3 linked regions of the Homo sapiens genome follow. The protein of the gene in region 3 purifies or fractionates together with the protein of the main gene of each other region. This does not show direct contact. Each region holds a gene or a part of one and is shown on either strand. Other genes may lie near its edges. The genes, in order: CHD5, BPTF and PWWP2A.

What was found.
Region 1: the proteins of PWWP2A (region 3) and CHD5 purify together in Homo sapiens (affinity purification with mass spectrometry, with the first as the bait; one large-scale study listed by BioGRID). This does not show direct contact.
Region 2: the proteins of PWWP2A (region 3) and BPTF purify together in Homo sapiens (affinity purification with mass spectrometry, with the first as the bait; one large-scale study listed by BioGRID). This does not show direct contact.

Annotation. Positions count from the first base shown.
Region 1 is NC_000001.11:6,170,253-6,173,907, reverse strand, and holds part of CHD5 (chromodomain-helicase-DNA-binding protein 5), read left to right. Parts: intron 1-3,655. UniProt on the Homo sapiens protein: ATP-dependent chromatin-remodeling factor that binds DNA through histones and regulates gene transcription. May specifically recognize and bind trimethylated 'Lys-27' (H3K27me3) and non-methylated 'Lys-4' of histone H3.
Region 2 is NC_000017.11:67,978,848-67,982,502, reverse strand, and holds part of BPTF (nucleosome-remodeling factor subunit BPTF), read right to left. Parts: intron 1,068-3,655; coding exon of another isoform or gene 1,061-1,067; exon of another isoform or gene 252-1,060; coding exon 215-251; 3' UTR 1-214. UniProt on the Homo sapiens protein: Regulatory subunit of the ATP-dependent NURF-1 and NURF-5 ISWI chromatin remodeling complexes, which form ordered nucleosome arrays on chromatin and facilitate access to DNA during DNA-templated processes such as DNA replication, transcription, and repair.
Region 3 is NC_000005.10:160,090,730-160,093,190, forward strand, and holds the end of PWWP2A (PWWP domain-containing protein 2A), read right to left. Parts: coding exon 1,653-2,461; 3' UTR 610-1,652; downstream 1-609. UniProt on the Homo sapiens protein: Chromatin-binding protein that acts as an adapter between distinct nucleosome components (H3K36me3 or H2A.Z) and chromatin-modifying complexes, contributing to the regulation of the levels of histone acetylation at actively transcribed genes.

The sequences.
Region 1 (3,655 bases), on a different chromosome or scaffold from region 3:
AAATAAATTATGAATCCTCTCTTGGGCGGTGTACTGCCCCCCTTTGCCAGCATAAGCCCTGTCTCATGGGGGGAGGTTCGAGGACTAACGGCAGCCTGAGAACTCCTTGGCCAGCGTCTAGGGTGGCCCTGAGAACCTCTGGCCCAGCAGTGGCCAAACTAGAGACCGCTGCCCTCTGCCCTTCACCACTGCCGCCCTGACCCTCCTGGGTCTCGCTGGGCTCTGCCTGCCATTGCTGAGCCCCTGCAGGCATCGTGTGGGTCCTTTGCATTCACAGTTTTTACTTCTCCCCATAGCCCTGGGGGAAAGGCTGCCACATTAGGCCCATTTCACAGATGAAGAGAGAGGCTCAGTGGGGAGGGGACTTGCTGGTATCACCTCCAGGAGGGGTAGCTTGAAGCCTCTGCTGCCCCTGTTGCTCCCTCCTCCTGACCTCCTGGTGGCCTTGTTCTCTGCTTGTTGCTGGTTGGGGAGTCCAGGTGGGGAACAGAAATAGCCCCTCTCGGCCGGGCGCGGTGGCTCATGCCTGTAATCCCAGCACTTTGGGAGGCCGAGGCGGGTGGATCACGAGGTCAGGAGATCGAGACCATCCTGGCTAACATGGTGAAACCCTGGCTCTACTAAAAATACAAAAAATTAGCCGGGTGTGGTGGCGGACACCTGTAGTCCCAGCTACTTGGGAGGCTGAGGCAGGAGAATGGCGTGAACCTGGGAGGCGGAGCTTGCAGTGAGCCGAGATCGCGCCACTGCACTCCAGCCTGGGTGACAGAGCGAGAGTCCGTCTAAAAAAAAAAAAAAAGAAATAACGCCTCTCCCCAGGTCCTGGAGAGAGTGGTGGACATTGAGTGGGGTCCCTGTCCTTGGCAGGTTTGCCGGCCTTTGCAACCTGGTGATGGTGTTCTCGTCCCAGCTCCTGGCTTGGCCCCTGCAAATCCTTCAACCACCCAGAATCAGATGACCTAACTTTCGCTCCACAGTCACGCGCCTTCCCCTTGTTTTGATCACCTTGTGTTTGCCAAGTGCCCTGGCGGCTGCGTCCTTGCTCTGCTGCTGCCCCTCCCCAGAGGAGTGAGGGGCTGGAGCCTGGGTCTGGCAGAGCTGTGGGGCTGTGTGCAGGGGGACTAGTGTGGTGAACCAGCCTTGACCCCCTTGAGGGACCTGTGACCTGCCAGACCACAGACCAGCCTGAGTCACCTCAGTGTCCCCAGGGCATCCACCGAGCCGGTTTACACAGCGTGGGCTGTTTCAGTGGGAGGGTGCTGGGGGAGAGACTTCGCAAGGGGGTGGGCGCCCACTGCCTGTGTTCAAACAGTGGCAGCTTCACCACTGCCAGCTGTAGGACTGAGATGTAGGTAAATAATGAGGTCCTTTGAGCCTCAGTTTCCCAATCTGCAGATGGGGATAAGAATAGAACCCTGAGCCAGGTGTGGTGGTTGTGCGTGTTGTCCCAGCTGCTCAGGAGGCTGAGGTGGGAGGGTCGCTCGAGCCCAGGAGGTCGAGGCCTGCAGTGAGCCATGATCATAACACTGCACTCCAGCCAGCGACTCTGTCTCTAAAATAAATAAATAAATAAATAAAGCCCCAAACCAGAAAGAATAGTACCCCTCTCTGAGTTGCTGTGTTGAACTGATACAAATTAATCAGTCCTAGGTACTTTGGGCCTGGCACGAGCCTGGCAGGTGGTATGCAGTTATCACGACTGCTGCTATTGCAATGCGCTACCCTGAGAAGGGCCCACCTCATCGGCCTGGCCGCAGCCTGCAGTGGCTCAGCCTAGGCCAGCCTGGGGGTCCCACAGGGCTGAGCTGGCGCATACTGGGAGCTAGAGAGGGGCTGAGGGAGCTCTGGAGAAAGCAGCAGAAGGTGCCTCTCCTTCCTCTGGTCGACTTGAGCCCCACCCCGCCTCCACCCCCAGGAGGTGGGTGATCACAGGGTAATGGGTCTTAATTAGAGCAGGCTTGGATCCGTGGAGCCTCAGGCCCTGGAGGGTTAGGGCTGGTGCATGAGGGCACTGCCAGGTGGGCCAGGAGGGTGGTGGGGCAGCCACGAGGGGCCAGGAGCTGGCAGGACAAGGAGTTCTGAGGTGAGGTTGCTCCTCCCTGGAGCCCCTCACCCGGGACGGGCAGGATGCCACCTTAACACTGGCTGCATGCTCTGCGTCTTGGAACCCTCTGGGCCTCTGCTCTGTCCCCACCAGATGGAGCCATAGGGAGGAGGGACTGGTGGGCTCAAGGGCACAGGCTGGGCTTGGGGAAAGGCTGACCGTGCAGTTGCTTGTATGGTGACCCCCAGATCTGGTTTTAGAAAGCTCAGGACCTGCTGCGGGAGCAGAGAGTGTCCAAGGGCAGAAAGGGGCTGGGGCTTGGCTGAAGACGGGAGCGTGTGAGGTGTTGGGGGGGGCAGTGTCATAGAGAATCAGGCGTGTGGTGACCTCAGGGCCACCCACCAGAAGCCATCTGGGGAGAGGAAGGGCCCATCAGAGACAGGGTTAGGCAGGGCTGAGTCCCCGTCTCCGTGTGCCAGTTCCAGAGCCTTCTCAGAGGTGGGTTTCACCAGGCAGAGGCCCTGGGCTGTGAGGTCTTCTGGGAACGGAGCTGGGGTCTGTCCATGGGCAGAGGGTCTGGGGCCTTGTCCTCGAAGGCCTGTTCTGGGCGTGGGTTAGGGCCAGAGCAGGGGTCCCCCTTTGTCCTCCCCTTACCCACGGGCAGATCCCAGACTTCCTTCCAGAACTTCTGGCAGCCACCTGTGCATACCCTCATCCGTTCTGTTGGTCAGGCCACCAGTCAGTGACCATGTGCTGGGCTGGGTTTCCTAAGTCTGGGACCACCCTGCCGGAAGGGGACAGCTGGGAGGAAGCAGGAGGGAGAGGCCCCCCCTCGAGATTGCATCAGCCAGAGCCCGTTACATAAGCAGTGCTGGGCACCGCCAGGGTGTGGGGGTGGCTCTGCCCAGGCGGTCTCCTGCGGTGGCGGGGGAGGCGGAGGCCCGGTGGCAGAGCGGGCAGTTGTGGACTGGCATCCCATCGGCTGCCCCACCACAGACAGCTCCCCGCCAGCCCTGCCACTGCCCCACCGACACCTGCTCTGCAGGACGACTCCGAGGGGGTCCCCGTGCACGTTTTCAGCTGGTTTGAAAAATCCCCGCCTTTCCACACTAGTGATCAGAGGAATGGGGTGGGGTCAGCCGGAGCAGCCCAGCCCCTGCCCCTGGCTGCTTGGGGCCTCACCCACATAAACCCACCTGGGGCGGCCCTTGCTGCTGGCTCCCCTGTGTGCCCTAGCCCTCCACAGGGTGCCCTCCCTGTGTGGGAGCCCCAAGCACCTGGCCACCCTTGAGGGAGGCCCTGGTGCAGAGAGGCACCAAGACAGTGGTGCAGCCCCCACCTTCCACTGGTGCAAACACCTTCCACTGGTGCACATTGGCCCCGTGGGATGCAAGGGTGGGAGGGGCGTCCGCTCAGCCACCAGAGCCCCGGTGCCCCCGAGGAGTGGGGACAGTGGGGCTAAAGCTGCACCCATAGTGTGGGCCATGGGAGCCCCAGAGACCCAGGGTAGGAGCCCTCCTGTCCCCCTTTCCCCGCTTAGGACTCTCTGGGGGTCCCAGGCCGGGCGGTGGGGGCCTGTGTGGAGGGTGACAGGTGAGTGTTGGGTGCACA
Region 2 (3,655 bases), on a different chromosome or scaffold from region 3:
CTTGACAAGATAATGGTGTCGTTGACTTTGCTTTTTTCTTGTCCGTTGGACAAAATTGGCCAAGAATATAATTGGACTGTTATGACCAATAAAAACGAAGTTTAGGTCAAGTCTTGTCAGGATAGCCTGACTAAAAACATCTGGCTCCTTAATTTAAAATAGTTCAGACAACCAGATTCTTGCTGTGTTTTATGTTAGGTTAACACGCTGAACTTTAAGAAGCTGTAGACTGCAGTTTGTTGTTATGAGACCTACAGAATATAGAAAAAAGGGAACAATTAAGCACCCTTCATTTTTGAAAACAATGATGCTTTATGCGGATGCCAAGGTCAGTCAGTCTGGGAGAAGCAGCCATGTTCTTTCATTCACCCTTGGCAAGCGAATAGAAAAGAACGATTAAGAAAATTTTAACCTATAATATTAAAACTTTTCACTGTACACTAAACATAATAGCTCACTGGAAAAAGCCAATATTTAAATATATATATATATATATATATATATATATATATATATATTTGTCTAATAAAGATTACAACATTTTCAGCCAACTGGACAAATAGAGGCATTTACAGAAGCATTACCATTGTGGTGAAAGGTGTGTGTGTGTGTGTGTGTGTGTGTGTGTGTGTGTGTTTATTTACATTGATGAGGGGAATATAAAGGGAAAAATTACGCTAAAACAAAAGAAAAAGCAATCTTAAAATCACATTTTTCTATTAAAGTCCAGAAAGTCTCCCTTCTAGTTTCACAGTTTTATTCACAACTTTCATTAGTAAACCAAATTACTGTACAGTTACCAGGACTAAGTCAAAGGACTTTATATTGAAATAGCAGATAAATACAGTATTCCAAGAGTTTACAATTTTTAAATACATTGTTCAACATGGCTGCTAGAGTAAATTTTTTACCACGATACATCTTTAACATTAAAAAATTATATTAACTAATCTGACTTTTTGGGGGGCAATTTTGAATTAGGTAATCACGAGGTACAATAAAACAAAGAGTGACCCCAACATCCAGTTCTGATTCCAGTTAAAAATTCAGACTAAAGATATCACAATCTGTAAGAAAAGAAAGAATATGGATGGTATAAATGATGAATTATAACAAAGTGCAGTAATGAAAACAATGTGCAAACAATGCTGGAGATCATAAAATGGGAAAATATGGCAAAGGAAATTCTGAAAATCCATAAATAAATCAATTTTCAATAACTGGCTAGTTATGTTTCATTCTGCCTTAAATCTGGAAAACAATAGAAATTCCCTAAAAAGGCAACAGCAAGTTGCCCTTATACAACTCTTTACATTGTAATTTTGTTTTGTTTTGTTTTGTTTTGAAACAAGGTCTCACTCTGTAGCACAGTCTGGAGTGCAGTGGCGCAATCACAGCTCACTGCAGCCTCAACCTCCAGGGCTCAGGTGATCCTCCTACCTCAGCCTCCTGGGTAGCTGGGACTACAGGCACATGCCACCATGCCCGGCTAATTTTTTGTATTTTCTGTAGGGATGGGGTTTCCCCATGTTGCCCAGGCTGGTCTCAAACTCCTGGGCTCAAGCGAACTGCCTGCTTTGGCTTCTCAAAGTGTTGGTATCACAGGCATGCACCATTGCACACAGCCTAATTTGTTTATTTAAGCAGAATTGAGCAAACTTCTCAATTCAGCTCCCATGTGCTTTAATGAAAATTATGTCAACTTGAGTATATTTAAAAACTACATAAAATAACCACGTGGCAAGAAGACATCCTAAGTGGCCCCTTCACTGTGCAGGCCCAGCCTAGGCCTCCATCTCTCCTTTACCAATTCCCTTTGTCTTGCCTACAGTCCCCAGGACCTCCAGGCAATTTCCTCTCCTTCATCAGCAGTTGCCAGCAGTCATCCTGTGGGCTCTGCCAGCAAGCTGGCAGCAGGGTAGGATTCACACTCCTTGGCTTCTACCTCACAGTTACCACCAAAGGCCTTCCCAATTTAAAAAAGCAATTTTAGAAACTGAACCAGAGGAATAACCACGATGTACAAATGAAAAAGCATAGAGGGGCTTATAATGAGAAGTTGTGCTCCTCTGTCCTACCTTAACTCCATCTGAAATCCAGGCTCCCTATGATCAATCCCTTTGACTTTTCAGTTCTCTGGGTAGATGTATTTTTCTTTTTGAGATGGAGCCTCAGTGTTGCCCAGGCTGGAGTGCAGTGGCAGGATCTCAGCTCACTGCAACCTCCTCCTCCCAGGTTCAAATGATTCTCCTGCCTCAGCCTCCCCAGTAGCTGGGATTACAGGTGCCTGCCCCCAGGCCCAGCTAATTTTTGTATTTTTAGTAGAGACGAGGTTTTACCATGTTGGCCAGGCTGGTCTTGAACCCCTGACCTCAAGTGATTCACCCACCTCAGCCTCCCACAGTGTTAGGATTACAGGCATAAGCCACCACACCCGGCCTGGGTAGGTTTTTTTTTGTTTGTTTGTTTTCAGACGGAGTCTCACTCTTGTTGCCCAGGCTAGAGTGTAGTGGTGCGATCTGCAACCTCCGCCTCCAAGGTTCAAGTGATTCTCCTGTCTCAGCCTCCCAAGTAGCTGAGACTTATAAGCGTGCACCACCACACCTAGCTAATTTTTTTATTTTAGTGTAGACGGGGTTTCACGATGTTGGCCAGGCTGGTCTTGAACTCCTGACCTTAGGTGATCCGCCCGCCTCGGCCTTCCAAAGGGCTGGGATTACAGGCATGAGCCACTGCGCCCGGCCAGGGTAATTTCTTATACTGCTATTTCTTGTTTTATCAACTTTTGTTTAAGCCCTGCTATGGCAAGGAGAACCAAGCTCACTTAACCATTTCCCAACCTCCCTTTTTTGAGTCCAAGTTTTATTTCCCTATAATTTAAAAATTATATCATTCTATGCTTTGTCTATAGGGTGATTCTAAAAGTCGAAAACCAATGTCATTATTTTTATTATCTTTGAGACGGAGTTTTGCTCTTGTGGCCCAGGCTGGAGTGCAGTGGCGCGGTCTTGGTGCACTGCAACCTCCGTCTCCCAGGTTCAAGTGATTCTGTCTCAGCCTCCTGAGTAGCTGGGATTACAGGCATGTGCAACCACACCTGGCTAATTTTTGTACTTTTAGTAGAGACAGGGTTTCATCATGTTGGCCAGGCTGGTCTCGACTCCTGATCTCAGATGATCCACGTGCCTTGGCCTTCCAAAGTGTTGGTATTACAGATGTAAACCACCGTGCCCGGCCCAATGTCATTATTTACGTTACTACGAAAATGTAAATATTTTTCTCTGTAGCACCTAGTCCTTTGCTAACAGGGCCTTTTTTTTTTTTTTTTTTTTTGAGACAGGGTCTTGTTGTGTCTTCCAGGCTGGAGTGCAGTGGCATGAAGATGGCTCACTGCAGCGTCTACCTCATGGGCTCAATCCTCCCACCTCAGCCTCTGAAGCAGCTGGGACCACAGGTGTACATCACCATGCCTGGCTAATTTTTGTGTTTTGTAAAGATGGGGTTTCCTCATGTTGCCCAGGCTGGTCTAGAATTCCTGGGCTCAAGCATCCTCTTGCCTCAGCCTCTCAATGTGTTGGGATTACAGGCATGAGCCACCGTGCCCAGCTAACAGGGTACACTTACACAACTTTCTGTTTTTAGTGGCGTTTCTAAT
Region 3 (2,461 bases):
TAGAAATCCACAAAAAACTGCTAAATTTTAAATTTCTAAAAGTATTGAAATTAGATATCCAAAAGTTAAGACACAAAGTATGAAAGCAACTTTAAAAATCTTGAGATAAACTTGCCTCCACAGCCAATCAGATATATTTCTCACTACTAATACAAAGCTAAAAATGGAAAATAAGAAATCAAATCTTAGGGACAGATGGACCATGTAGAAAAATAGTAAGCTAAGTTACTAGCCCCAAAAGCAGTGATACATGAGGCAGAAAACCAAACAGAAGAGACCGGTTGTAATTACCCGAATGTAAAAAAAGGAAGCATGTGATGAAATATTAAGACTAAAAATTAAAATTCACACATTTATGAGAAATTGGCAGGAAGGGGATATCAAATCTAAAAGCATTATCAAACCTCTATACTACAAAATCTTATTTTGAGAATATACTGATTCATCTCTCATTATTTGAAGTTTTCTTATCTCAGATAATATATTCCCTGATAGGGCAAATAGCAAAATAAAAGTTTGATTTTTCATCTCTTCTAAACACTCTTACAAAGAATAATTTTCTACCATCTTGAAATTTTTCAAAGCTTTTTGAGAAACACACACAAATAATTTGGATTTAGTTGATTTTATTTACAGCTTTTTTTTGGTTTTTTTTTTTTTTTTTACATTTCAGAGCATTACACAATTACATTTTCTCATTTTCTGACCTGCAAACAGATACCTTAAACGGAAATTATTTTGTTTTAATTATCAAATTAGGTACATCCAAAATGCAACAATTACACATATGACAATTAATTCACAAAGTATAATTTTACTGGGACATATCCTAAGAATTTAGGAACAGCCAGTCAGGAGAAATCTGACCAAATTTAGCAATCACTATTTACAAATCCAAAATCAAACCTATCTAAACTCCCAAACCAGAAGCTTGAAAGTATTTATTAAATCCCCACTGGACGAAAGACAGTGATGACTAACACCTATCCAGTCTTGACAGTTTTAATCCCAAACACTGGGCTATTTCCCCAGTCTGTAACTGAATTGCAACCATCTGTTTGTCAAACACCTAACCATCTAACTTTTACACCATTATGCGCATAGAAAGGCTAAGTGTTCATTATTTAAAAAACAAGTAGTCATTAAATATCCACTATTCCCCCAGCTCACCAAGCCCTTATTGCAATCCCAAATATGCAATCTGTGTCACACAGTGACAGGCTGTATTTCATATATATATATGTGTATATATACATATATATGTGTGTATATATACATACACGGATATATATATATACACACACACACACGTATATATATGTATATATACAGTATTAGGTACAAATGGCAATTAACAGTCCCTACAAAAATTCAATTTCAGTTGAGGCTATGGCTCCTATGCCTTGGGATGGTTTCGAACTTCAAAACTGAAAAATACTGCTAAAATCTCACTTCCTTAACACAAAATTTGATTATATGTTCAGTTTAAGCTCTCAGTCTAAAAATGGCTATAAGGTAAGTATTAAAAAGCCAGCCAACTGAGTGCAACTTCTCTCTCCAATCTGGCCACGCTATTTTGTAGAAATTATTCCTAACTAGACTAGAAAATCTGTGGTGACTTCCAATGGTCTTGCCTACCTTACTGCCCATGTTCACGTTTCAAACTGTGTCAACAAAGCCCGCACTTCGGGGGTCAGCTGCTTGGCAGCCTTAGCTGCCTCTGTGATAGCCTTGCGATACAGGCCCTTTCTCTTCTTATTAAAGCGTGACTGGAAGTTTTCTAAAAAGGGGGAGAGTTGTGAAAGAGCAAGGAAAGATGTTGTTGGAGACCCAAACCATGAAATACGGGCCTCCTGTCGGACTAAAAGGCCGTTATCTTTCCGGCTCACAGTTATAGTAAGAATACGGGCTGGCCACCAAGGGAAGCCATATATCTTGGCCCAAACAATGTCCCCTACACATATGGTCCTGCCATCTGGTGTGACGCATTTAGAGACGTTTTTGGAAAAGACTTTCATTTTCAAGGAATTACTGAGCTTTTTCTCTTCCTTTGAAGAGGAGGAAGTGGAGGAGGTGGAAGGTGCATGCATACTGCCTGGAGGAAAATCAAAGCTTTCAGAAGAACTACACTCAGAGTTGGAAGATTTCAAATCATCTGTGCTATCAATGCTACACACTGAAGCACTGGAAGAGTCAGATTTCTTTTGATTTAGGGTCATATAAACAGAGATATTGTTTTTGCTGCCCTTTTTGCCCAATGTCTGTGGTTCATCCTGATCACCAGGCACATGCACTTCATTTGTGTCCTGAACCTCACTGCTGGCCTCTTCAGGGCCTTTTGAGGGACTCTGATTTTCTGAAGGGGCCTCACCTGCTGAGCGGGTAGAGGTGCAGCGAGACTGGGGCTTGGGTGCCATCTTGCCACTCCGCATTTTCTCAAGTCCTGTCTTCAGAGAAGAGT